4 linked regions of the Homo sapiens genome follow. The protein of the gene in region 4 interacts with the protein of the main gene of each other region in a pairwise test. Each region holds a gene or a part of one and is shown on either strand. Other genes may lie near its edges.

Region 1 (7,047 bases), on a different chromosome or scaffold from region 4:
AGCAGAACGGAATAACACACGGGTAAGTGGGGATGACCTTGTGTCGCGCGCGCGCACGTGTGTGTGTGTGTGTATGGGGGTGTGTTGTGAACACCTTGACCAAGAGAGCAGGCAAGAGTGGGGCCAGGCACAGTCCTAGCTCAAGCCCCATCCTTCCCTCTTCCTGTCTCCCATCCTGGGGTGAGAGTTACATCGTTTAACCACCAGTGCTGGGCTCTCCACCTGTAGTTGCTGGTTCACAGAAAGCTCAGGGTCCTGGGGAGAGGCCGGGGCAGTCACCTTGAGTAGTATCAGTTGGGGCGGGAGCTCTGTGCCCATTTGGAAGTATTTCAGTGTTTTCACAGTGGGGTGGCTGTAACTCATGTCTGCTCGGGGATCACATGGACCCTGCTTGTAGCCCCTGGGGCACATGCTTACAGCCCTCCCTCTCACCCTCCCCTGCTCTCCCTGCCAGCTGCTTCTGGAACATCTGGAGTGCCTGGTGTCCCGCCATGAACGGTCACTGCGGATGACTGTGGTGAAGCGCCAGGCCCAGTCACCTTCGGGGGTCTCCAGTGAGGTGGAGGTGCTGAAGGCCCTCAAGTCACTGTTTGAGCACCACAAGGCCCTGGATGAGAAGGTGCCCACCTGCCCGCCAGCCCCCACATCCAGCCAGGCTGCCCTGGAGCCTCCCATGTATCCCTTCTCTGAGATTTCCACATCCGGTATTTAGGGAGCACTGGCTCCCTCCAAACATTGTCTTAACTTCAAGGTCCTCCTGTTAGGCTCCCTCCTGCAAATGTGCTGCTTAGTAGGCCCTTCACTGTCCTCATGCTCAGTGGTGGTAGACCAAGCCCAGTCTCTTCCAGCCTGACTCAAGTGGGGTCCCCCTTTCTTCCTCCATCTCCCCTTACCTCGAGCAGGTGCGAGAGCGGCTCCGGGCAGCGCTGGAGCGAGTCACCACCTTGGAGGAGCAGCTGGCAGGTGCCCACCAGCAGGTAATCTGCCTGCTCACCCTCAGTCTGCAGCTCCTGGAAGTCCAGGCTGGTTCACCCCTGTGCCCTACTCTGTTTCTTGTCAGATTTCTCCCTGCCATGGCTGGAAGCTGCTAGGCAAGGCTAGGCTGAGCACCTCTTTCTAGGAGACATTTTTTAACTAAGACAGGGGCTTTGGAAGGGTCTGGAATGTATGGGAGGTTCTCTTCTCTTTGACTCATTGCCCTGGGGCTTGTGCCCTACAGGTGTCTGCCCTGCAGCAGGGGGCAGGGGTGCGGGATGGAGCGGCAGAAGAGGAGGGGACTGTGGAGCTGGGGCCGAAACGCCTGTGGAAGGTAGGTCATGGAGAGCTGTGTAGCAGGGGTCATGTGTTCCCCAAGGTGGGAGGTTGGAGGCCCGGCTCTGCCTTAGTTCAGTAGACTAACTGCTTGAATTAAATTTGAGGCTTTCTCTGATATTCCCCCTTCTCTTTTCTTCTTCTCCCTACCCCATCTGCAATGAAATCTGTAGATTTTTATTTTAGTGCCCAACACATGCTGGGCACATCATACGCTTGTCTGCTTGAATTGTTAGGCACCATCTGCCTCATGTGGCAGCATCAGGCAAGATTCCTTCTCTGTCTGAACCTTTGTTCCCCCAGTCACGCCCCTTTCTGGGTTACAAGAGGCTGGCATAGCAGATAAAACTAGAAACTTGTTTTCAAGAGAGACAAAGGATAGCAAGGTGTTTGGTCATTGTCAGGAGTGACCTCCTGGGGCCCAGAGGGAGGCAGTTGTAGCCAGAGGAGTGCTGTGATGTTGGGGGCAGAGCCTTGACCTGCTCTGGGTGTGCTGTTCCTCCTTCCACCCCTGGGATAGGGGAGTGGGGTGGGTGGGATGCTGCTGTGACTCACAGAGCTACTGTCCCTATCCCTGGAGGAGGATACGGGCCGGGTAGAGGAGCTGCAGGAGCTCCTGGAGAAGCAGAACTTTGAGTTGAGCCAGGCCCGGGAGCGACTGGTCACCCTAACAACAACCGTGACTGAACTCGAGGAGGACCTGGGCACGGCCCGCCGGGACCTCATCAAGTCGGAGGAGCTGAGCAGCAAGCATCAGCGGGACCTCCGGGAGGTGCGTGAGGGCGCAGGCCTGCTCTGTGACCTCATTGTGGAGCGTGTGGAGGGAGAGCCAGGCAAAGGCTCTGGGGCGTGAGACTGAACACCTGCCTCCTTGCCTGGCTCCATTGTTGGGGGGCGGTCATGGAAGGGGTGGGCCAAAGCCAGAAACTGACAGGAGAGTGTAGCTCATGCCCCTTAATGGGTTCCAATCAGCCAGGTGTGGGTGGGGAGGTGTAGACAGGATGGGGGCAAGGAAAGGCTGGTTACCGTCCTTCTTGTCCCCTCTTCTCCCAGGCTCTGGCCCAGAAGGAGGACATGGAAGAGCGGATTACTACACTGGAGAAGCGCTACCTGGCTGCTCAGCGTGAGGCAACATCCATCCATGACCTCAATGACAAGCTGGAGAATGAGCTGGCCAACAAGGAGTCCCTGCACCGCCAGGTACCTCCTCAGGGTGGGGTGGGGATGGGCATTGTACTTAGCCCTGGAGGTGTCCTCGTGAACCTACTGGTGATGGCTGAGGAGCCCCTGGGGTCCTGCAGGTCACCCTTTGAAAGGGGAAGTCAGGCGTCTCGGGCAGCCAACAACCAAGATTGTCCCTTGCTGCTTCTGACCTGTCATCTGCTCTCTGCTGAGGCTGGGGTGGGGGTGGGGGCTTCAGTGCTCCCTTTTGAATCACTTCACCACCCCCACATTGCTAGTGTGAGGAGAAGGCCCGACACCTGCAGGAGCTGCTGGAGGTGGCAGAGCAGAAGCTGCAGCAGACGATGCGCAAGGCAGAGACGCTGCCAGAGGTGGAGGCTGAGCTGGCCCAGAGAATTGCAGCCCTCACCAAGGCAAGTGGGCCAGGGGCCTGGGATCTGCCTCTGTCCCCCATGTTCTGAGCTCTCAGGGAGCCAGGCAGGGAAGGGAGCGCGTGGGAGGCGCACTGGGCCAGGAGCCAGAAAACTGCTTCCCGCCGTGTGATTCCAGGGAGCACACTGCCTTGTGCCTGTCAGTTGGAAGAGTAATCCCTGTCCTCATCACCCTGCAGGGATGTGACAGTCTCATAAGAAGGGGTGTAAAAGTACTTGAAGGAGAAGAAGCTATGTTGATGCAAAGTGTTTTTCTTTTTCTTTTTTTTTTTTTTTAATCCTCTACACCGTCGTGGTGAACACTTTCTTTCACTTGGGGCTGGAGCAGAAAGATTAGGACTTTCATCTCTGGAAAGGTGAAACCTTAGAAGAGAAATGGTATATATATCCCTGAAGGGCAAAGGGGTGAGAGTTAGGTTGAGTACATCTTTGATTGCCAAATTGAAGCTTCTAGATCTAGGGACTGCTCCTGGTTGTTTGAAGGCTGCAGTTTTAGGATGAAGAAAAAAGAATACAATTTTATTTAATGGATACTTTATGAAGTAGTAATTCCTGAGAGGTGTGCTGGCTGAAAACATAATAGGTTCTGGAAGAGCCAGGTAAATGCCTGGATTTAGACATGCAGGGGTTAATCAAAATAATTTAGGAGCGTTTTCAGCTGGTCAGCCTCATATGGGATCTTCGAACCCGTGGCGAGAAGAAAACCGGTGTTTAGGAAGCACCAGGCACAGTGCTCGGAAGGGAGAGGCTGGCCGGCCAGTGTGCAGCTCAGCTGCTTCGAGGACGGAACCTGCAGCCTGGCTGTGTCCCAGCAGACCCAGGACCAAGACTGCTTCTGCCACTGACTGTCTCTGCGACCTGGGAAAAGTCATCCCCTCCCTTAACTGGGCCTCAGTGTCCTTATCACTATGTTGGAGTTAGACGGGATGGTCTCGGAGGTCTTTCCAGCCTCGAGGAATGAAGGATTGGGTTGAAATCACAGCAGAGGATGTTATGTGTGGGCTGCTGAGCAGTCAGCCTTAGTGTCTCCCAAAGCTGACATGAAGGCACGGGCTGAAATGATTAATACAGTCAAGTGAGTCATCGCAGGAGGAGTTTAAGGAAGGATTTCCTGACTATAAGAGATGTGGCTTTCTAGAATATCTTGCCAGCAGAGACAGTAGGGTCTCCATCTCTGGACATCCATGACTGGAAAGGGAGACTACCCCACCTGGGCTGGTTTAACAGCAGAGCCGTAACCATGCGGGGCTAACATTTGTTGAGTGCTTACTATGTTCTCAGTGTTCGCCTTGGATTATTTCATTTAGTCTTTGTGATGGTCCAGTGGGCCTGGGTGCTATTATTACCCACATTTTACAGTTGTGGAAACGAAGGCACATAGAGGTTTGGTAACTTGTCTAAGGTCACACAGGTGGTAAGAGGGAGCCAGGATTTGAACCCAGGCGGTGTGGCATGAGCCCATGCTCTTCAGTGTGGTTCTATCCATCTGGAGGCGTAGAGGTTTATGGTAGCTCATGCTTTCAAGTGGAGCTTTTTCTGGAAGCATGGGGATTATTTACAGTCTCTTGAACTGCTAGCTTCAGGATGTTTTAAGGCTAGGCCTGAGCGAGGAGGAGGCAGGGGAGACCTGGCAGGTATTGAAGTACCTGGGAAGAAAGGCAATGGGGATGGTGGTCCTGCTCCAAGATGATAAGTGGAGGCTGAGCGTCACTGGTACTGGGGGCCATGATCCCCAGGGCCACCCTGGCACCAGGGTGCAGGGGATGCGGGGCCTGAGCAGGAAGAACAGAGATCTGCGGGCTGCACCGACCCATCCCTGCCCCTAGGCTGAAGAACGGCATGGCAACATTGAGGAGCACCTGCGGCAGCTGGAGGGACAGCTGGAGGAGAAGAACCAGGAGCTGGCACGGGTGAGGGCACCAGGCCGGGCCCTCAGGCCCCCTCCTTCCCGCAGGACAGGCTCCCAGGGCGGTCTGTGGAAGGGGCACGGAGGAAGGGCCTGGCCAGGGACACAGCCACAGAGAGTGGGAGGAGGCTGGCAGGTGAAGGGGGAGGTGGTCAGGAGACTGGAGAGAGTGGCTCCCAGAGGATGAGAAGAGGACAGGGGAGGGAGTCAAACCCCAGCAGGAGAGGGTGGTCCTCCCTGGGAGGGCGGCCTGGTGCGAGGCAGACGGCTGTGCAGGTGCGCCAGCGGGAAAAGATGAATGAGGACCACAACAAGCGGCTGTCGGACACAGTGGACCGGCTGCTCAGCGAGTCCAACGAGCGTCTGCAGCTCCACCTGAAGGAGCGCATGGCTGCCCTGGAGGAGAAGGTGCCCAGAGGGGCGGGGTTGGGATGCGAGAGGTTAGTGCTGGGTGTGGGGCGGGGGGAGGCGGGACTGTGATGGGCGCAGGCGGGGTCTCAATGGGGTGGGTGGCCAGCCTGGAGAGGTGGGGCTGAGACTGCACACCCAGAGGCTCAGGTCTGGAATGGGAGAGGAAGGCAGGGGCCTGGCTCACAGCTGCTCTCCCCCAGAACACGTTGATCCAGGAGTTGGAGAGCTCCCAGCGGCAGATTGAGGAGCAGCACCACCACAAGGTACCCGGCTGCGGCCAGCCCCGCCCAGCCTGGGAGGGCCGGGTTGCAGGGAGGAAAGGACACCCTGCTTTTAACGCTGCTGCTCTGATACCTGGCAGTGTTAGTGCATATGTTAGTGCACTACATACATTATTCCGTGATTTCTCACTAGAGCCCATCATGGTAGGTGCATTACTGCCCACAGGGAAAGAAGAAACTGAGGCCAGAAGCATAGGGCAGAGGTGGACAGCAGAGAGGCAGGGCCCAGTGAGGGGCTCCACCCCAGGATTTGGAGGGAGCTTCAAACCCTGGTGCAGCCAGAGCCTGGTGATTCTGGGAGGATTTGCCTCCGTCCTGGCCTCGGCAATGTCTGTGAGGTCTGAGGGGGTGCTGGGGCCCTCTGCTGCCCAGCCTCATCTGCTGTGCATCTGTGCAGTAGTGAGGGGTCGGCAGGCCTAGGCTAGCAGAGCCCTCCCCAGACAGACCCCCTCCTGGCCCTGCCCCTGCCCATCCTTCCACTCACTCTCTGGTTGGACCTCTTCTCTTTTGGTGTCATCTGTGGGCCTGGCCTGGGGCCCCTGGCTTTGGACTTTGCAGTACATTCTTCAGCTTCTCCCCAACTCTGCTGTCCTCTTTGTCCCTCTCTGACTCCCACCCTCCCTCTCTGCCCCTCCCTGGCCCCCACTCCCGCCCCCACCCCGGGTCTGCTGGCACAGGGCCGCCTGTCTGAAGAGATTGAGAAGCTGCGCCAAGAGGTGGACCAGCTGAAGGGCCGAGGGGGGCCGTTTGTGGATGGCGTCCACTCCAGGTACTGCAGCGCCAGAGGCTGGGCATGCCAGGACGGGGTCCTGATGGACCGTGAGGAAGGAGACTTCCTTCCAACAAAAGACTGCCCAGGACCTCAGGGTCCTCCTCCTGTTCAGGGTGGGACACTGAGGCTCAGATAACTTGGTCAGAGTCACCCAGCTTACTTGGGCAGTTTGGGAGGGAACACCTGTCCTCCGAGGGCTGCTGAGAGGCGAGTCATCAGACAGCCAGTGCTCTGTCCCCGCTGTGGTAGGACATAGGCCATGATTTCTGCTTCCTTGACAGAGGGCACACCCCTGAGAGAGGCCTGCACATCCCTTGCTTAGCCATGTCCTACAGGGCCCACTGGTAGGGAGAGCCATTCACTCCAGTTCTCTTGAGAGTCAAGGACCACCTGAGTTCAGGCAGCGGGCAGAAAGGCAGCAGGAGAGATTGGAATGAAGCATCAGAAACTTCCTTACTGGAAGTTGAGACGCCATGGCAATCCTATGGACTTGGCATCCCTTTTCTTGAAACCATTGTGAGAGATGGAGCTTATCTCCTAATGCTTGAATTAGGCCCATGTTTAGGGAACCTCGGGATTTCCCCCACATTTTGTGGAGCGATGGGTATTGAATTCAGACCTCGAGCCTGTCCTCAGTACCCAGGCCAGAGAGGTGGGGTGAAGACAGGGGAGACTGAAATGGATGGTGCCACTCAAGGTTCATGGCTCTTGGCTGTTTTCTCTCCAAACCAAAGTCTCTTAGATCAGAACCCT
Region 2 (7,169 bases), on a different chromosome or scaffold from region 4:
TTTGTTGTTGTTTAAATTTAGCTTCCCAGTATAGCCAAAAGCTCTGGGATAGCTTCACTGGGATATGTATTTAGCAACAGTTTGCTGTGATAACTAAGAATAGTTTGACCAAATGTCAGTGTTATCAATCTGTCCTGGAGTCTCTCTGAGGTTAAGCTCCCGTGTAAAAATGCAAACAGCATGCCCCTCAAAACCACAGCTTTGAGTGGATTCAGGTAAAGCATACAATCAGATCAGAAAAATCTGGCCTTATAATAATCTCTAAAGTAACTGAAGTTTCTGTTTAGAAGAACTGTGTCTCTGTGGGATTTCTTTCTCCATGCTAGCTCTGGACTTAAGCAACTATTTAAAGGACAGACCTCTAGAGACTTTGATAAATGTCTCTAGACATCTCCCCCACCCCTTTCGACCTAACACTTAAAGTCACAGTTTTCATTGTCAAAGGAATGGAATATTTTTGGCTGGTGCTGTTATTACTGGGATAGATTTTGGAGGTTGAAGTTCCTATGCTGTAAAGGCACAATTACAATAGGAATTCCAAACTGAAATGTGAACTATTAGGCCCCGTGGACTCAACATCCAGCCTTAAAATAATATCCCAAAAACTTTTACTTCTCTGAGGATACTTTTGCTCTACTGCAGTCAAAAATACGAATTGAAAAAACAAGGGGCCACAGATAAAGATGGAGAGTCTTGTGTGTAACCCACCTCCTGTCTCTCACCCTGGAAATCAGTTTTATCTTTTAATGAAACTGATATCCAAGCTCGTGATGGCTGAAATAAATCATCAGTGCTGGGTGGTGTGTGTACACATGTAAGCAAAACAAACAGAGAAATCTGTGCTAACTCAAGGTAAGGGTGGATAAATACGGAAAACCTAATGCTACTACAGCAACATGTAATTTGTTCTTAAATGGCAGCAACTGAAAGATTCACTATTTTCAGACACTAGTCTCACAGTCTTGATGGGGTTAGGACTGGCCTCACACTGCCTCTGTGTGGGGCTTGACTGGCTTTTTTGATAGCTCAAGTGCTGCAAATTTATTTAAAAGAGAACAGAACGCTGACTTTCTTCACTAACTCACTCCAGCTGGGTTCCTGCCTGCTTTTCTTCTGTCCCCACCCCCCGCCACTGCCCCTCATCTTGCAGTACCCCTCATCCCTTTCTCCAGCTAAAGAACAGCTGATAGAAATAGGCGCCTTTTTTTTTTTTTTTTTAACATCAAAGGCAGCCCAGAGCTATGTCAGCCTTGCCCCAGCCTCAGACAGAAAAAGCTTTTGATGCCTCAGATTGCGAAGCTTTTTGCAGCTGTACTTTATCAAGGCAGCAGTGGCAGGGCTTGGAGGACCCAGGCGAGCCAGAAGGTGGCGGCGAAGTCACCTTGGGAAGAGGAGAATAGGGTCAAAGACAGGACGGCGGAGGGGCTGACCCGGACGGAAGGACCAGAGGGCGTGCCCCTGCTCTGGGGTCAGTGAGGAAGGGTCAGGGGGACTGGTGAGAACTCCAGCCATAAGGAAGCAGTGCCCGAGGACACTTTGGCGACGCTAGTCGGTGATCAGCTGACCCGGGCAGGGAGAGGAGGGTGCCCTTCGCAGAGTCACGGGAAGCTTCGCCTTCTGGGCTTGCTTTCTCCCGCCTGCCCCTGCGGTTGCTCTCTGCCCCAGCGAGCGGAGCGCTGCTCCAAGACGCTCTTCTCCCTCCACCTCGGCGCCCCCACCTGCCGTTGCCCCCGCCCGCCGAACGCACGCCCAGGAGGGCGGGCCCGGAGTTGAGCGCAGCCGCCCGCCGCTGGAGAGCGCTGGGAGCCCTGCAAGCGAGCAAGGCCTCTCTGGGCGCCGCGGGCAGCAAATCACTCCCCGAGCCTCTCGGTCCACAAAGCGGGACCTGCCTGCCTCGCTCACCAACGCTCCCGGGCTGGGGGGGCTCGAGCAAGCGGCGCTGCGCTCCGCGGCCCTCGCCGGTCCCAGTCAGCTCCAGGAGCGCTCCAGGCTGGGTTGGGCTGGGCCTGGGCGAGCCCGGCCGCTGGGAGGGGGCCTCGTAGCCCTTTCCCCAGGGCGCGGTCTCCACCTCTCCTGCTCCTCCTCGCCAGCTGCGCCGCCAGCTCCCATTGTTCACCCCGCCCGCCTGGCGACGTCCGGGTGCTGCTCCCTGGGCCTCCCAGGCGCACCTACCTTCTGCTGCCGGCGAGCCATGTCGGTGGGCTGCTTGGCATTAAAGGGGTAGGCGATGCAGCGCATCACGAACACATACAGCTGCAGCCTCTTCTTCCTCTCCTCCTCCTCTTTCTGCAGCCGCTCCAACTCTTCCTTCTCCTTCTCGCTCACCACCGACGGGCTGGGGCTGGAGGGCCGGCCGCCGCCAGCGCGGCTGCTGGGTTGCAGCCCCCCGGCCCCGCCGCCGCTGCTCGCGCCGCTGCCCCCGCCGCCGCCTGCACCCACCCCGGCTCCGGCGCCGGCGCCGCCGCCCCCCAGCCCGGCGCTGCCGGCCGAGCCCTCGCTGGTACGGCTGGGAGACAGGCGCGCGCCGGACGGGGCCGAGCCGAGCACCTCCTTGCCGCTCTCCTCCTCCACGATCTCATCCGATTCTTCTTCGCTGGACGAAGGGTCCAGCATAGTGGCGCCTGGGGAGCGGGGTCTCTGGAGCCCCCGGCTTGGAGTGCAAAAGGTGGGGGGCGCTGGAGGCAGCCGGGGATCAGCTCTCCCGGGTGGGCGCTTCTCCCCAGGTCAGGGAGCGAGAGCGCTGCTGCTCAGCCTCGGCCGCCGCGACTGATCCTCTGCCCGGCGGTCGCGAGCTGGGCTCAGACCCAGAAGCGCGAAGGGAGGAGGGGAAGGGAGAGGTGCGTCCGTGGACTCGAGGTGGGCAAGGGGGAGAATCAATTGCGAGCCCCGAGCCCGCAGCCGGATGCCATCTGCGGCTGCTGAAGGAGGCGCCTCCAGAAAAGATGCCGAGTGTTGCAAGCTGTCGATGCAGCCAAGAGCCGAAGAGGCATCTTGCCGATTGGGGAGGGAGCGGCGCTTACGTGTTTATTGGCTTAACTCTCCCGTGTCCGCGGCGTAAAGGGCTGCTGCAGAGGGCTGGAGGGGGGAGAGCGCGGAGCGTCCTCAGAGCCTCAGTACTTCTGACCCCAATACCTTGCCACCCTCCTCCCCTGCCGGCTTCGTGGATAATTTTTTTGTTGATATCTGGCTCTCATTGCCTCAACCCCTTTTCCCCTCCCGCGGACAAAAAGTTCTTGGGGGAGGGAGAAATCCAGAAACCAGCCGAGCGGGCTGTTTGGAGACGCTAAATCGAGAGGTCTTACTTAGGAGGAGGAAGTCCGTGAGATCTTATACGGGAAAGAAAGGGTCCATCTCCTTTCCCCAGGCTTCTTTACACCTGGGGCGTGGGGGGCGTGGGGGCTGGGCAGCGTGTTTGTCCCACCTGTGTAAACTCTGATTCCAGCAACTTATTCCGCATGCGCCCAGTCTAATTAAAATAAAAGTGAATCAAATTTTGAATGGATTGGTGTTTCGACCAGGCAACTCAACCATTTATGTAGCGCCCCCGACCTTGCCTACCCCCACCCCCAAAATCTATGATGAATCTTCTTCAGTTCCCAAGACCTGGGAATGCTTTCTGCTGAGGTGAGCCTACCAGAAAAATAGAAGGGTTTCTGGTTGCTTAACCCTCCCTCCATTCTGGCTCGGTGGAGGCTTGGGGACCCCGCGATCAGACAAAGACACCCTAAGAACTCAGCGGCGTCAACATCTAATGCGTCGACTGTCGCACTCTGTTCACCCCTGCCTCTCGGGTAAACTATTAATACAAAGCAGCAGATGGTGCCTGCCTTCCCCGTGCTCCTTTCACTTAGGCCAGTAAACCTGGTAAACGAGGGAGCTGGCCAACGTGCTGAATGTAACCTGCGACCCGCACGCAGATGGATGAAAACAAACCACCAGCCAGCCACCTTCAGAACTTAGGCTATCTAGAGACCTCTCCACTTCATCGCCTATATTTATGTATTTTCTAGTTCTCTAATTATCTGTAGATACTCGTGGGAGTGATTTTAATAGTGTAGCATGAGTTTAAAGTTTAAATCACTTTTGTCTTTACGTATTTTATAATTTACCATGAGTTTTACTAGCTTTGATAGTAAAGTGACCTGTTTGAGACCTGCAGATGAACTCAGAACAACTGGTTTCACATTAACCTCAACAATTCTGTTTGATCTTTTGAGTTAAGTACTTGGATGGCTTATATTTGACTTCACCACCATACCTCAAGGACACAACTTTTGTGGCCATCACACATTTGGTAACAACACAAAATTTAAAAAAAATTGAGCAGTGCGGGGATTGTGACAGTTTTGCAGCCTCACTTTTTAATTCTTCTCAAGAAGTAAAGGATGTTCAAATCATGTGGTATTGGTTTTCCTGGAACAGAAAATATAGTAAGCCAATCAATTGATCAACAACCTTTATCCAGCACCTTTTAATGAAGTAACACATTGTTCTAGGTGCTTGGGATAGATAGAATTTTTAGAAGGCATTCTCTTAAAGAGTCTATAATCTCCTTTGGGAGCTACAACATAAACATGTGAAAAAGATTGACAGCACTTATTCTGAGGCAACATATCAACAAATCCAGGTCAGTAAACTGCAAAAAGCTTGCGTGAATGAAGCAACTTGAAGTGAAGGGAATCATATATTTCTCAAAGAAGAGAATAAAATCTTAAGGGAACATACCATATACATGGGTGGTGAAAAGAGAAGGTATTGCAAGTGGAATAAGTGGTTTGCAATGCCAGAGTAATAGGGCAAGGGATCAAGTAAGGTTAAAGAGTGTTATGGAAACAGGGTATGGGTAGGTGACAGGAGGAGGAAAGAGCTGAAATTATAATCCATTTGGCGAAATAAAGGGACCATGTTTAGGACACAAATTAAGGAGTATGTGATGATTTGGGGAGGAGATGCTGTTGAAGGCCAGAAACAGGTCATTCACAGATTAAATATTTCTTCTAAGGTCTCTTTAGGCATTTAAATACTGTCACATCAGACATTGGTGGCAAAGTGGCCATGAATTCCATCTACAAAAACACTTGGAATTTCACAATTGCTGTAATAAAGTTTTGTTTCATATTTTTACAAACTCCTTTGGGATTATGTGGGTTTTTTCCAGGTATAGTCATTAATATAGAAACTTAATATCCACCTTTTGTAAATTACATAAACCTATGATTTGGGTGTTAAACATAACATTGCTTACATAAATCTAACAATCTTCTCAATCCCCCCCAAGAGTATTCAATCAAAGAGGCTTACATAGATTTTACCAAAAATATTTCCATATTTTTTTCAAATGGTGAACATTGCTGTCTTTCAAAATATACACCCTTTCGAAGACATCTCTTACCTTAGCCGAAAGTCAACTTGGAGATATTCTAAATATTTGTTAGTATTGAAGATAAGATATGCCAACCAGAACTTATGAGGCATCTGAAGTAGGGATTGTGACTTCCCTAAATGTACATTTTGATAAACAGGGGAAAAGATGACCACAGAACACATGCAAAGTCTCTTAACTTTTGTCTACCTCTTGTAAATATTTGTGTTCTTATTTTTAAAAGTAGAATTCCACCATAGATTCTTATACACCTAAGAATTTATGTCCTTAAGCTATTTTATGTGCTTGCATGTTTGCCCCACATCCAGTTCTGCTCTGTAGAAAACTTGGATAACCTCAAGATGATGGAATACATTTTAATCAACTATCTGGAGACCATATCATGAAAGTAGAAGCTATACCGTTGAATTTTGTAATCCTACCCCCAAAAGCAAAGTCTGCAGAAAATGGAAATGACTGAGACACTAAGCCAGGATTTCCTAATCTAAACCTAGATGATCTCCATCCTTCTATGAAGTGTTTGCCTCGATGTGTCAAAGGCCACAAGTATGAGGAAATATCTGACTCGCTGGCAATTGATAGTTTAGTAAAAACAAACCTCTTCTTTATGTCACACATAAAACACATTTCCATCAAATATAACTAAGTTTAATGCCCACTTTGATGCTTTTGTGGGTTTGTTACTAAAAAATAATTTAGCTAAGTTAAATATTTAAAAAATCTCAATAAACTTCATATTATCTAGATGTGATCATCTCATCTAATCAATATTTAATTTTGTTTAAATTATAAGACTAGCTTGCAAGCTCCAAAAATGGGTTAATTTGATCTTACAGTGTGCCTTAGGTCAAGTTAAATGCTTGGCCTCTCAACCCAGACAGTTCTGCCTCTACCACTTAATAGTAGAGCTATCCTGAACGAACTAATGATTCACATTCAGTATCCTCATCTGTAAAATGGGGGATAATAGTACTCACTTCCCCTGGAATGACAACAAAAATAGATGATATATAAAAAGCAATTTTCAACCAATTTTAGCTTTACATTTTTTTTCCAGTGATCTGAGAGGGATGTGCCATAAATGAGATGACAAGAAATTGGACACAAATAATTAGAAGGAAACGAACATAAAAGAAATCAAATAATTCAGAACTAGATCCTGAAAAATAGAAGAGTTGCTTATTTGTTTACTTGATGCCTGTCTGGTTTTAGATAGTATTGTCAGGGATTAGAAATGGTCTATTTTGTTTGAGAAACCTACTTTTCATCATTACTCTTTATATCATATGATGATTCTTACTAAAGTAAAATGAAGCAGGTTAGGATGAAATTAAAGGATCATCATAAGGCTAAAAATAATAAAAATCGAGCCACACCAAAGTATCTTTCACTCTAGGCAACAAAACATGTTTTGGAATGATAAATAATATTACTTGCAAGAATTGGTCTTGGAAAATCACTCTCATTACTTAAGAAGATGAAAAAGAAAAGTGGGACAACACATTTTACAATAAATATTTAAGTCAAATTCTGAAAGCCAACTATTCACAAGAGTAATCATGTTTCTTGTGTACACAATTTCTTTTAATAGAAGTGAGAACTAGATGTGGTATGGATTGAAATGCAGTTTATACTGGTATTTACATGGACAAGATGGAGGGTTTTGTCATTTTGCATTGACTCTGAAATACAGTGACATACCATCAAATAAAAGGGAAAAAAAGTACCCAAGTGGCTGTTTCCACATCATAAAATATTACGTAGATAATCTGCCTAAGTAGCCTAA
Region 3 (7,075 bases), on a different chromosome or scaffold from region 4:
TTTGGGAGGCCAAGGCAGGCGGATCACGAGGTCAAGAGTTTGAGACCAGCCTGGCCAACACAGTGAAACCCCGTCTCTACTAAATATACAAAAATTAGCTGGGCATAGTGGCACGTGCCTGTAGTCCCAGCTACTTGGGAGGCTGAGGCAGGAAAATCACTTGAACCGGGGAGGCGGAGGTTGTGGCGAGCTGAGATTGCGCCAGCGCACTCCAGCCTGGGCAACACAGCCAGACTCCATCTCAAAAAAAAAAAAACTTCAAGAAAAAGAATATAATCCCACTTCAATATGTATCATATCCTTTAGGAGTCTTAACTCCTAAAGTTGGAAGTAATGAGCTATTTGACCTTATTTAACAGTTCAATCAATGCCACTTTATGTGATTAGGTTTCTCTGTGTAATCTACTGATTTCTTCTTTCAGTCAACATTTACAGGGTGCCCAAAGTGTACCAGATACTGTGCTAGACCCTGGGAATATAAAGTTAAAAAGATCTCAAGTTGTTCACAGTCTAGCCTGGAGAAAAAAGGAGACTAAACAATCCATTGTACAATCCACTGTAATCCATTACAATACAAAATGAAGAGCCCTGGAATAGAGATAAGAATAAAGTGCTATGCAGGAACAGAAAACCAAACACCACATGTTCTCACTCACAAGTGGGAGTTGAACAGTGAGAACGCATGGGCACAGGGAGGGGAACAACACACACTGGGGCCTCTCGGGGGAGGGGCGAGGATGACAGGTTGATAGGTGCAGCAAACCACCATGGCACATGCATACCTATGTAACAAACCTGCACATTCTGCACATGTATCCCAGAACTTAAAGTAAAAAAGAAAAAGAAAAAGGTGCTATGGAAGCACACAGGGTGCATATCTAAACCAGAATGGAAGGGTCACATAGGGCCTCCCAAAGAAGGTGATGTTTAAGTGACTCATATAGTACCTGTAACTACCATCTAAAAGCATGTTGATTTCTACTTAGGGTCAGTTTGGGGTCCAACTAAAAGCTTATTAAAAACAGAACTGCTACCTCTTTGCCAAAGGTGCAACCCACAGGGCCCAGCGCACAGGTCAGCAAGCATAAAAATATTGATTCATGATGAATAAAACGCCAGTAAGGGGCAAAATAACAGACATAAGGAGAGGGTAACTTTTCAGCCAAGGTAATGATAAATGCCAGGAGGAAAAATCACAATGATGATGTGGGTCAGAGAGAAGAATAAGAACAGTATCTTGGCCAGGTGCAGTGGCCCACACCTGTAATTTCAACACTTTGGGAGGCTGTGGCAGGAGAATCACTTAAGGCCAGGAGTTCGAGACCAGCCTGGGAAATATATCAAGATCCTGTCTACACAAAAAAATTTAAAAATTAGCCAGGCATTGTGAGGCAATGCCTGTAGCCCTAGCAACTTGGGAGGCTGAGGTAGGAGGATCCCTTGTGCCCAGGAGTACACAGCTGCCGTGAGCTGTGATTGCACCACTTGCACTCCAGCCTGGATGATAGAACGAGACCCTGCCTCTCTAACAAAAAAAAAAAAAAAAAAAAACGACGGCTGGGCGTGGTGTCACGCCTGTAATCCCAGTACTATGGGAGGCCAAGGTGGGCAGATCACAAGGTCAGGAGTTCAAGACCAGCCTGGCCAACTTGGTGAAACCCCATCTCTACTCAAAATACAAAAATTAGCCAGGTGTGGTGGTGCATGCGTGTAATCCCAACTATTCAGGAAGCTGAAGCAGGAGAATCGCTTGAACCCAGGAGGCGGAGGTTGCAGTGAGCTGAGATTGAGCCATTGCGCTCCGGCCTGGGCAACAAAGTGAGACTACATCTCAAAAAAAAAAAAAAAAAAAAAAAAAAGAACAAACAAATAGTATTTGTAACTGCTTTATTGCATTTCCTACATTCTTTCACATCCATTATATGATTTAATTTTACTCTCCCAAAAACCCTTGTTAAGCACATTATAAGAGCGCAGGTATCATCACTAACAGGTTTTTTTTTCTATTTTACAGATGAGAAAATTGAGGCTTGGAAAGGGCTCACACTCATATGGTTTAACATGAAGCCCAGTGAACTGTCTTTCAACTACATAATGTCCTATAGCATCCTCAGAACCTCACAGTCATTGGATTACAAGGTAGGTAGTTAGGCCCAACAGAGAAAAATGCTGCCTCAACTTTGGAGGGAAAAGGTGTAGGAGAGGTTAAGAAGGGAGGTAGGGAAGGAAGACAGAAAATACTATATAATCATCAAGAAAATACAATGAGAAGAAACAGAATGAACAACCGTTGTAAAGCTTATGATCATAACCTTTGCTCACTGGTAAAACTGCTGAAGGAAAAACCGAATGGTGGATGATGACAGTTGGTGACGAAATTGACAACAGTACAAAAAATAAATCAGATAATCCAGAGTGGCAAGCAACACGATTACCCATAAATGTGCATGGGGAACTGGAAAGGTGTGTGTGTGTGTGTGTGTGTGTGTGTGTGTGTGTGTGTGTGAGAGAGAGAGAGAGAGAAAGGATGAGGATGATAAGCTGAAGGACGCAGGGAAGAGCGAATGAAAGGGGACTGGCAATGGAGCAAGCACGACTGAAAGTGCATGATGGGGAGCAGATGGGTGCCCCAGGGGATTACGGGAGAGGCAGAGTGGAATAACGCAGAGTGGTAATTTAATAAAAAACAAAACAAAAAAAAAAACGGCAGAAATATGGTGATGACAGTCCAGAGTGGAGATGGAGCAGGTGGTCAGGGAGATGACAACCCAGGTAGGGAGGCTAGCAAGGTGACAATACAGAGGTAGTAGTGGCAGGGACGGACAGCGTGCTAGCTGAGAAGGAAGCTGTCATCTGCGACAGAGTACGCGTGTGCGGCAGCGCCTCGGGGTTAGTACCTGTAACCGCGGTTGGAGGCCCGGGGCGGAATCCGGTAGACGCTGACGTCTGGCTTCACACACAGCACAGACTCGTACTCCAACTCGGTCGCCATCTTGGGTCCGCTGTCGGCGCTGCCGGGGGCGAAACGTAAGACCGGAGGCGGAGCACGGGAGGCGGAGATGCAAAGCGCGACAACTTCTGTTGCGTCACTTCCGCGCGAGTTCAAGTTAGTTTCTGAGATTAACCTTTTCGGTGACGCGGGGAGCCATATTGAAACCTGGAAACGATGAGGCTGCACGGCTCACCGTCTTGGATAATGGCAAAGATGGCCTGCAAGTGCGTGACTCTCGTTATGGAAATCTCTGTCCTGGAGAGGTGCTTACGAAAAGCGCCATCTTACTCTAGGCAGGTGCCTGGAGTGTCCTACGAGGACGAGGACCATATTGAATCGTGACGGATTTTCTTACAGGAGTCACTTCCTAACTGTAGTCTCCTGGCAGAAAAGAGGCAACCTCCAGCCGGTAGTCCCAGACGAGGTACCTGCAGAGAATGATGTATGATCTGGTCATAGACACCGTGGATTTCAACTCTCCAGAGTCTAAACGCTGAAAACACCCAACTTGATTTAGTGCCTTACACTCTTTATCTCCGATTTTTCAGGACGACACCTGTTAAAATGTTTTGCCACACTTTCGGCGTGTATTCCGATTATCTTTTTGGAAAATTTGATCCTGTTAAATAGACTATACGTGGGATCAACCCAATTCCTGATAAAATCGGAAGCATAATGAACTATCTAATGGCCTATATTAGCTCCCAGTTCTATTATAATGATAAATGCTACCGAACTCTCACCATAAATATGCTTTTTCTGCGCCCCAAAGGTAAACTTAACCACAACACCCTGACAGTACAGATAGCAAGTGGCAAAACTGAGACAGAAACTCAAGCCTGCCTCATTACAACAGCAGCAGTCTTCACCGCTGCTGGAGCTGGCAAGGTCACCAAGTCTGCCCAGAAAGCTCAGAAGGCTAGATGAATATCATCCCTAATACCTGCCACCCCACTCTTAATCAGTGGTGGAAGAACGGTCTCAGAACTGTTTGTTTCAACTGGCCATTTAAGTTCAGTAGTAAAAGACTGGTTAATGAAAACAATGCATCGTAAAACCTTCAGAAGGAAAGGAGAATGTTTTGTGGACCACTGGTTTTCTTCTTCAGAAGGAAAGGAGAATGTTTTGTGGACCACTGGTTTTCTTTTTTGCGTGTGGCAGTTTTAAGTTATTAGTTTTTTAAATCAGTACTTTTTAATGGAAACATCCAAAAATTTGTCACAGAATTTTGAGACCCATTAAAAAAGTTTAATGAGAAAAAAAAAAAAAGCAAACCTGCCTCTAATTTGTCTGCTCCACCTTGGAAAGTGATATCTTAAATTTCAAAAAGAATTACCACATTTATCCCTGGCGAGGACGTGAGGAACAGTCTAATCTCATACACTGTTGGCAGGAATGTAAATTGGCACGGCATTTTTAAAAGGGAAATTAACAGAATTTATCAAAATATTAATTGGACGTAATCTTCAATTTAGCAGTTTCACTAATAAATATTGTAGAGAAATCCTTATATGCACAAAAAAGTATGTACAATAATACTACAGCATTGTTTGTAATAGTGAAAAAAATGGAAACAAAATGACCATCTATCAATGGGAAATGGTTAATGGTATATCTATTACTATGAGATGTTTTGAACTAAAGGGTTAGCCATTGAAAGAGATCCAAGATTTTTTAAAGCCAACTGCAAAAAACATACAGCATTATCAACTTTTGTCGAAACACCCCAAAATTATATATGCATGCATGTAAATGCATTGAGAAGGCTTTCAAAGGATATAAGGCTAAGTGGGGGAAAGAAACTTATTTTCTCCTCCATATATTTCTCTGTTGTTTAAGATTTATATAGCTATTATTGTCACTGAATACATGTTAAAAGAAAAATAAAGACAGAAAAGTGGTTTATTACTTGTTGTTCCTTATTTCTGACCCTATGATCTCATCTGAAGCCTAGGTCATATGACTACACCACATTGTACCTCTTTTTTTTTCTCTGTTCTGTGTTATCACTGGCAATCATTTTTGGAGGATTCTGGCTTCTGGTTCACCTTCTTACTAGTTTATACTCTTCCTCTTCTCCCAAATCTTTTAGAGATTTCAAAGCCCATATAGTTAACTCTTCCTAGCCATACAATCTCTTGACATAAATTCTAACTATCTTTACCTCTCTTTTCTACCTCACCTGTTCTTCTTCATGTTCTGCACATTGTTAGCCTTCTCTTTATTCCTCCCATCTCCTTGTTTCAACAGTTCTCTTGCCAGCATCCTTAAGTTTCCTTTCCTCTTTGTCTTTCCATCACAGCCAACCCAAAAGACTCCAGTCTTATATATTCCAACCATCTCCCTCCATCATTCTCCAAAAGCAAATCACACAATTATAAAGATTGGTGTCCCTAAAAGTTTATGGGTTTGAGTCTCAGCTTTGCCCTTAACACCCAGATTTGCCATTGCTAGTTTTTATTTTCATTCCCTTTAATGGTTGTTCCAAATTTTGCTGCCCTTTCAGGCCTTCAACTCTAAGTCTTCTCTTTTTCTTTCTTGACAGGTAAAACATCTTACTACTTCCCTAAGAAAATAAAGTTTGTGTGAACTCTCTCAACTTAATGACACCCTATTCATACTCCTATCTGCATCTTCATCTATTCTTTCTCCTATCCACTTGTGTGTGCCCTGGATTCTCCTCAGGGACCAATCTCCTCAGGGACCTGGTTAATCAGTTATCTCCTTTCTTTCCTGTATCTTAAAACTCATTTTCCATTCACCCCTTTCCCTCACCATGTAAGTATATTCAAGTCCTTTCACCTAAAAAAAAAAAAAAAAAAAAACCCTTACTTAACCATGTTTTTTCTTTATATAAATTTAAATTTCCCTTCTCTTGCTTCATCTCAACAGAAACAGAAAAAAATACAGTCTTCCTCACTCTCACCCACGATGTCTTCTCTAGCTTAACTGATCACATTGCCATAATTTTCCATACATGCCATTTTTATTCATGCTGAACATATTTGTCCAGACTGAAATGCACTTCCCGTTCATTCCTTGGTAAGATGCCTTTAGATCTAATCTAAATATCAATTTATCTCAGAAGTTTTCCTCAACTTCTCTAAATAGAACTGGTAACTGCCTCCTCTATGCTCCCACAACATTTGTACAGCTGTTTTAGTTCTTAGCACATTGCATTCAACTGCTTGTTGGCATCTCTGTTTTCCAAGGGAAAGAAACAGGTTTGTGTTTTCCCAGTATCTAGCACAGTTTTCAGACTATAGTAAGAACTCTGTATGTTTATTTGCTAAATGAATGATCATTTCAGCCTGCCTTAACAGGGATGATTTGTTCTTTCCCAATCAAAATAATTAAAAATGTCTTGGGCCGGCACAGTGGCTCACGCCTGTAACCTCAGCACCTTGGGAGGCTGAGGCAGGCAGATCACTTGAGGTCAGGAGTTCAAGACCAGCCTGGCTAACATGTTGAAACCCTGTCTCTACTGAAAATACAAAAACTAGCTGGTCATAGTGGTGCATGCCTGTAATGCCAGCTACTTGGGAGGCTAAGGCAGGAGAATTGCTTGAACCCAGGAGACGGAGGTTGCAGTGAGTCAAGATCATGCCACTGCACTCCAGCCTGGGCTACTGAATGAGACTCCGTATCAAAAAAAAATAAACTAAAATAAAAAAATTAAAAATGTCTTGTCTCGAACTTATCTTTGCCCACCACCGGGGGGTAGTAGCTACACAGCTCACAGGTTCTGGGCTGAGTAGACTGTGCTAAGTCAAGCTAGTGTTCTTGTATGTGGCTTTGTAAGTATATGATTTAACCAAGTTTAACAAAAGCTTGTTTTTTTAAATGCATTGTTGAAATTCATGGAGGCCTTACCCATCTCAAATCTTGGTCACTTTTAGATGTCATTTAAACATGAAAATAACTTATGGTTTTCTTAACTTAGCCCTACCAGTAACATATTTCCCAGCTCTTCTTTACGCACACACAAAAAGGTATTTATCACAGATTAAATTCTGACTTATCATTGCTCAGGGTACTGCTATCAATGGTATTTGTTAAAGTATAATTTTCCTAAATCCTGAA
Region 4 (3,433 bases):
AAGATGTTTGTTACGTTATTCTGAGTTTTTGTTAGTTTGTTGACAGGATCTCCCTCTGTCACCCAGGCTGGAGTTCGGTGGTGTGACCACAGCTCACTGTAGCGTGGACTTCCCATGCTCAAGTGATTTCCCTCCTGACGAGCTGGGACCTCAGGCACGGCTACACCCAGATAATTTTAAACTCTTTTTTGTAGAGACACGATCTCACTGTTGCCCAGGTTGGTCTTGAACTCCTGGGCTCAAAGCAATCCTCCCACACTGGCCTCCCAAAGTGCTGGGATTATAGGCATGAGCCACCACGCTTGGCCTCTTTGCTCCAGTCTTGGTATTTAGAAAACGGAGGTGAAAACACAATCAAGAGGAGGGGGCATTTATCCACATCTGGACCAGGCAGGAGGGAAGCAAGGTTCCAGCCGCAAGGGGTGTGGAGGGCTGAGATCAGCTGCTGCTCTCCAAAACCAGGGATCTGCGGGACTAGCGAGTAAGACATACGTGGGGTCCGCAGTGAAAACATTTATTTTACAACAGTAATCTTTATTTTAGGCCAACATTCAGACATACAAGACGGAGATCACCATGCGGAACCAGCCTGGCCCTTAGATGTGTGTGCTCGAGCCAGGATCAGCCGGAGTCTGACAGCGCCTGCACCCCAACACGGTCGGATTCCAGGACGCCAGTGACAAAACCAGTGCATGGACAAGCAGCTTCCATGCGTGTGCATTTGATTTTTAAAAACAATACATATTTCAGTGTTAACTTCCCCCCTCACCTGGCTTGAAACATTTTCCCCATTTTCCAGGGAAACAAACTCTACCAAAAGGTGCCGCCTGCAGGACCCCGGGCCCAGCCCCTTCTGGAGGTGGTGCTGTGTGGACTCCTCTGGGGCGGACCCGGGGCCAGCACAGGGCCCCTTCCCAGGCCGCCCTTCAGATGCAGCTTTGCCACTGACCGTATCTGCTGCTCAGAAAATCAGCTTTCATGTTTCAAGGCAGGGAAGGGCTTCCAGTCCCCTCCTCGATTTCACACCGGGACACACACCTGGGTCAGGTGAGCATGACACACAGCCCCCAGGATGGGCACCCCACCCTGCAGAGCAGAGGCCAATGCTGGTGGGGGCCGTGGCAGTGCCCTGGGCACACACCCTCTGCACACAGTGGGCTCAGCGCTTCCTTCTGTGCACCTGCTGGGAAAGCCTCCTGCAGGTCCCTGCCCGACTCCCAAGAAACCAGAGGCCATTTCAGAGCCACCTTTAATTGTACTTGTCACTTCACCAGGGGACAGCAGCATGAATGACACTCCTGCTGCGTGATATATACATATACACATATGTACACACACGGACACACCACAGCCCACACTCACAGCATGTGACGACGCAAACTGTTGCTGGTAAGGACAGTAAAAATGTAGCTTTTGCCAATTCCACAGGAGAATGATTTACAACCAAAATAACAGACACAGGCCAGTCCTGCGCCACAGGGGTTCACAGCTCTGAATACTGGGAAAGGGTGAGATCAGTCATTTCGTGTCCCCTCACGAGATGTCCCCACAGTAGGATGCACTGAGTCAGAGCTAAGGGAGGGTGGACAAGCGCTGAACTCTGCCCGCAGCACCCGGACCCTCCAGTGGCAGCCTGCATGCTGGTGCCCTTCCTTGCAGCACAAGCCTCGCCCGGAACAGAACGCCTGAGAGCAGCCTCGACGGCGTGAGGCTCCAGGGCCTCTTCTGGATGGCAGCAGCCGACGTGAAGACGAAGCTTTTCCTGCTGGGCACGTGTGCATGCCAGTTCCTTTTTCTAGTAGGTCCCCACTGGGTGCTGGCTGCACTAACAACATAGAGAACTAGGAAAGTTCACAAACACTGAGCAGTAATATCTAAAGCAGTTTAAAAATAAAGCCAAAAGGAAGACAAAAAAATCCCACGTCACTGAGTGGAGACAAATCTATACAGCAGCAGCTGCCGTGAAAGGGCCCGCAGGGCCGCTCCTACGCCTCCTGCAGGTCGGAAGCAGTCAGTGCTGCCCGGACCCCCTCGTGAACCGGACGGGCCTCAAAGCACGACCCCAGAGGGCCCCTGGCAGCCCCCAGCAGCGGCGTCCAAAGGGACATTCTGTGCCCATGGCCACACTTGCTCACAGCATTGTCTGCGGCCCGAGAGTGAGGAGTCGGGGTCCCGTCACTGCCACCAGCAAAAGCAGGCAGGGGTGCTGGGGGCGTCCTGATCTGTTAGCACGTGGACAGGGAGGCGCGGAAGCTGCCCCAGGACTCACCACCTCTTTTAATTATAGGGAAACAGTCCACTCAAGAAAGAGAGAAATAAAACCCGGGAGGATCTTTTTCCTTAAATTAAGACAAAGCCTTAAAGCCAACAGGGCAGAGCGCTGAAAACGGTTCTGCTTCTAGGTCAGGCAGGGGGAGGAACTCCAGGCCCCGAGTGTCTGGGCTTCCCGGGGGTCGTCTAATCACAATCACCACCGTGAGAATGGCCACAACCATGATTTATTAGGTTTTACAGATTCTGCAGGGGACTGGGTTCCACAAACCTCCAGACCTGCTCCTCTTTCCCACCCTACCCCACCTTCCGCAGGGAGCTGCATGGTTCTACAAAATGGTCCACTGGACTCTGTAACTGAAAAGCCACCTGGCAAGGGGCCCACTCTGATGGGTACCGAAGGGCCTTGGAGTGTTCTAGCCACAGAGCTGTGTGCAGGCCCAACAGAGGGCCTGGTGGGGCTGAGCTAGGGCCCCCGATGGGCAGCTTTCTACCTTAGGTCCAAGCTTAGAACCTGGCTCTTGGCCAGTCTGCGGAAAAATAACTCACGTCCTAAGCTACATCTACAAAAATTGCAAAGGCTGAGTACAGCCAGCATCTCAGGCTGAACTTGCTGCTGCACGAAGCGGCACGGAGGCACCCCACTGTCTCGCCACCTCACCTTTCAGGATGGGCCAAACAATGAATTTCTTATTCTTTTAGGAGAGGTCTGATTTTGATAAATTATTTCTAATTTAATATCACAGTGCATATCTCTCCTCTTGTCAAAGGTCTTCGTGATCATTTTAGTGAGAAGAAACAAAGAAAAGTGGGACAAACAAAGCTGCCCAGGACCTAGTGCTGGCAGCCGGCTCATGGTCCACATGCGGATCTGCAGTAGGGGTCAGCTGGGGGCCCTCAACCAGCACCCTGTTCCTAAGCACGTCCAGATGTATCCTCATATCCATGTCCCTTTTGGCAGCTTCCTGGTCAACCTGAACCTACCCTTCTGCACAGCCTCGGGTGGCTGCTGAGGGCAATGAGTGAGCTGGGGCCACGGGTCAGCAGGCAGGCAGGGAAGGGGGCTTCAGGAGGCTCATCTGGTTGGTCCGAGCCAGAGCCATCACACACAGCCTCCTCCTCAGCTTTATCTCTACAGGGACCTCTGCAACTCTGCAGCGGC

Evidence for each region.
Region 1: the proteins of DNAJC5 (region 4) and PPFIA4 come close enough for resonance energy transfer, tested with the Homo sapiens proteins (one study listed by BioGRID).
Region 2: the proteins of DNAJC5 (region 4) and CADPS come close enough for resonance energy transfer, tested with the Homo sapiens proteins (one study listed by BioGRID).
Region 3: the proteins of DNAJC5 (region 4) and NECAP1 come close enough for resonance energy transfer, tested with the Homo sapiens proteins (one study listed by BioGRID).

The regions. Positions count from the first base shown.
Region 1 is NC_000001.11:203,043,477-203,050,523, forward strand, and holds part of PPFIA4 (liprin-alpha-4), read left to right. Parts: coding exon 1-22; intron 23-454; coding exon 455-619; intron 620-902; coding exon 903-977; intron 978-1,219; coding exon 1,220-1,309; intron 1,310-1,891; coding exon 1,892-2,083; intron 2,084-2,364; coding exon 2,365-2,511; intron 2,512-2,771; coding exon 2,772-2,906; intron 2,907-4,750; coding exon 4,751-4,834; intron 4,835-5,106; coding exon 5,107-5,238; intron 5,239-5,441; coding exon 5,442-5,504; intron 5,505-6,199; coding exon 6,200-6,291; intron 6,292-7,047. UniProt on the Homo sapiens protein: May regulate the disassembly of focal adhesions. May localize receptor-like tyrosine phosphatases type 2A at specific sites on the plasma membrane, possibly regulating their interaction with the extracellular environment and their association with substrates.
Region 2 is NC_000003.12:62,872,417-62,879,585, forward strand, and holds the start of CADPS (calcium-dependent secretion activator 1), read right to left. Parts: upstream 3,001-7,169; 5' UTR 2,614-3,000; coding exon 2,173-2,613; intron 1-2,172.
Region 3 is NC_000012.12:8,078,206-8,085,280, reverse strand, and holds the start of NECAP1 (adaptin ear-binding coat-associated protein 1), read right to left. Parts: upstream 3,008-7,075; 5' UTR 2,993-3,007; coding exon 2,898-2,992; intron 1-2,897. UniProt on the Homo sapiens protein: Involved in endocytosis.
Region 4 is NC_000020.11:63,933,092-63,936,524, reverse strand, and holds the end of DNAJC5 (dnaJ homolog subfamily C member 5), read right to left. Parts: 3' UTR 514-3,433; downstream 1-513. UniProt on the Homo sapiens protein: Acts as a general chaperone in regulated exocytosis. Acts as a co-chaperone for the SNARE protein SNAP-25. Involved in the calcium-mediated control of a late stage of exocytosis. May have an important role in presynaptic function.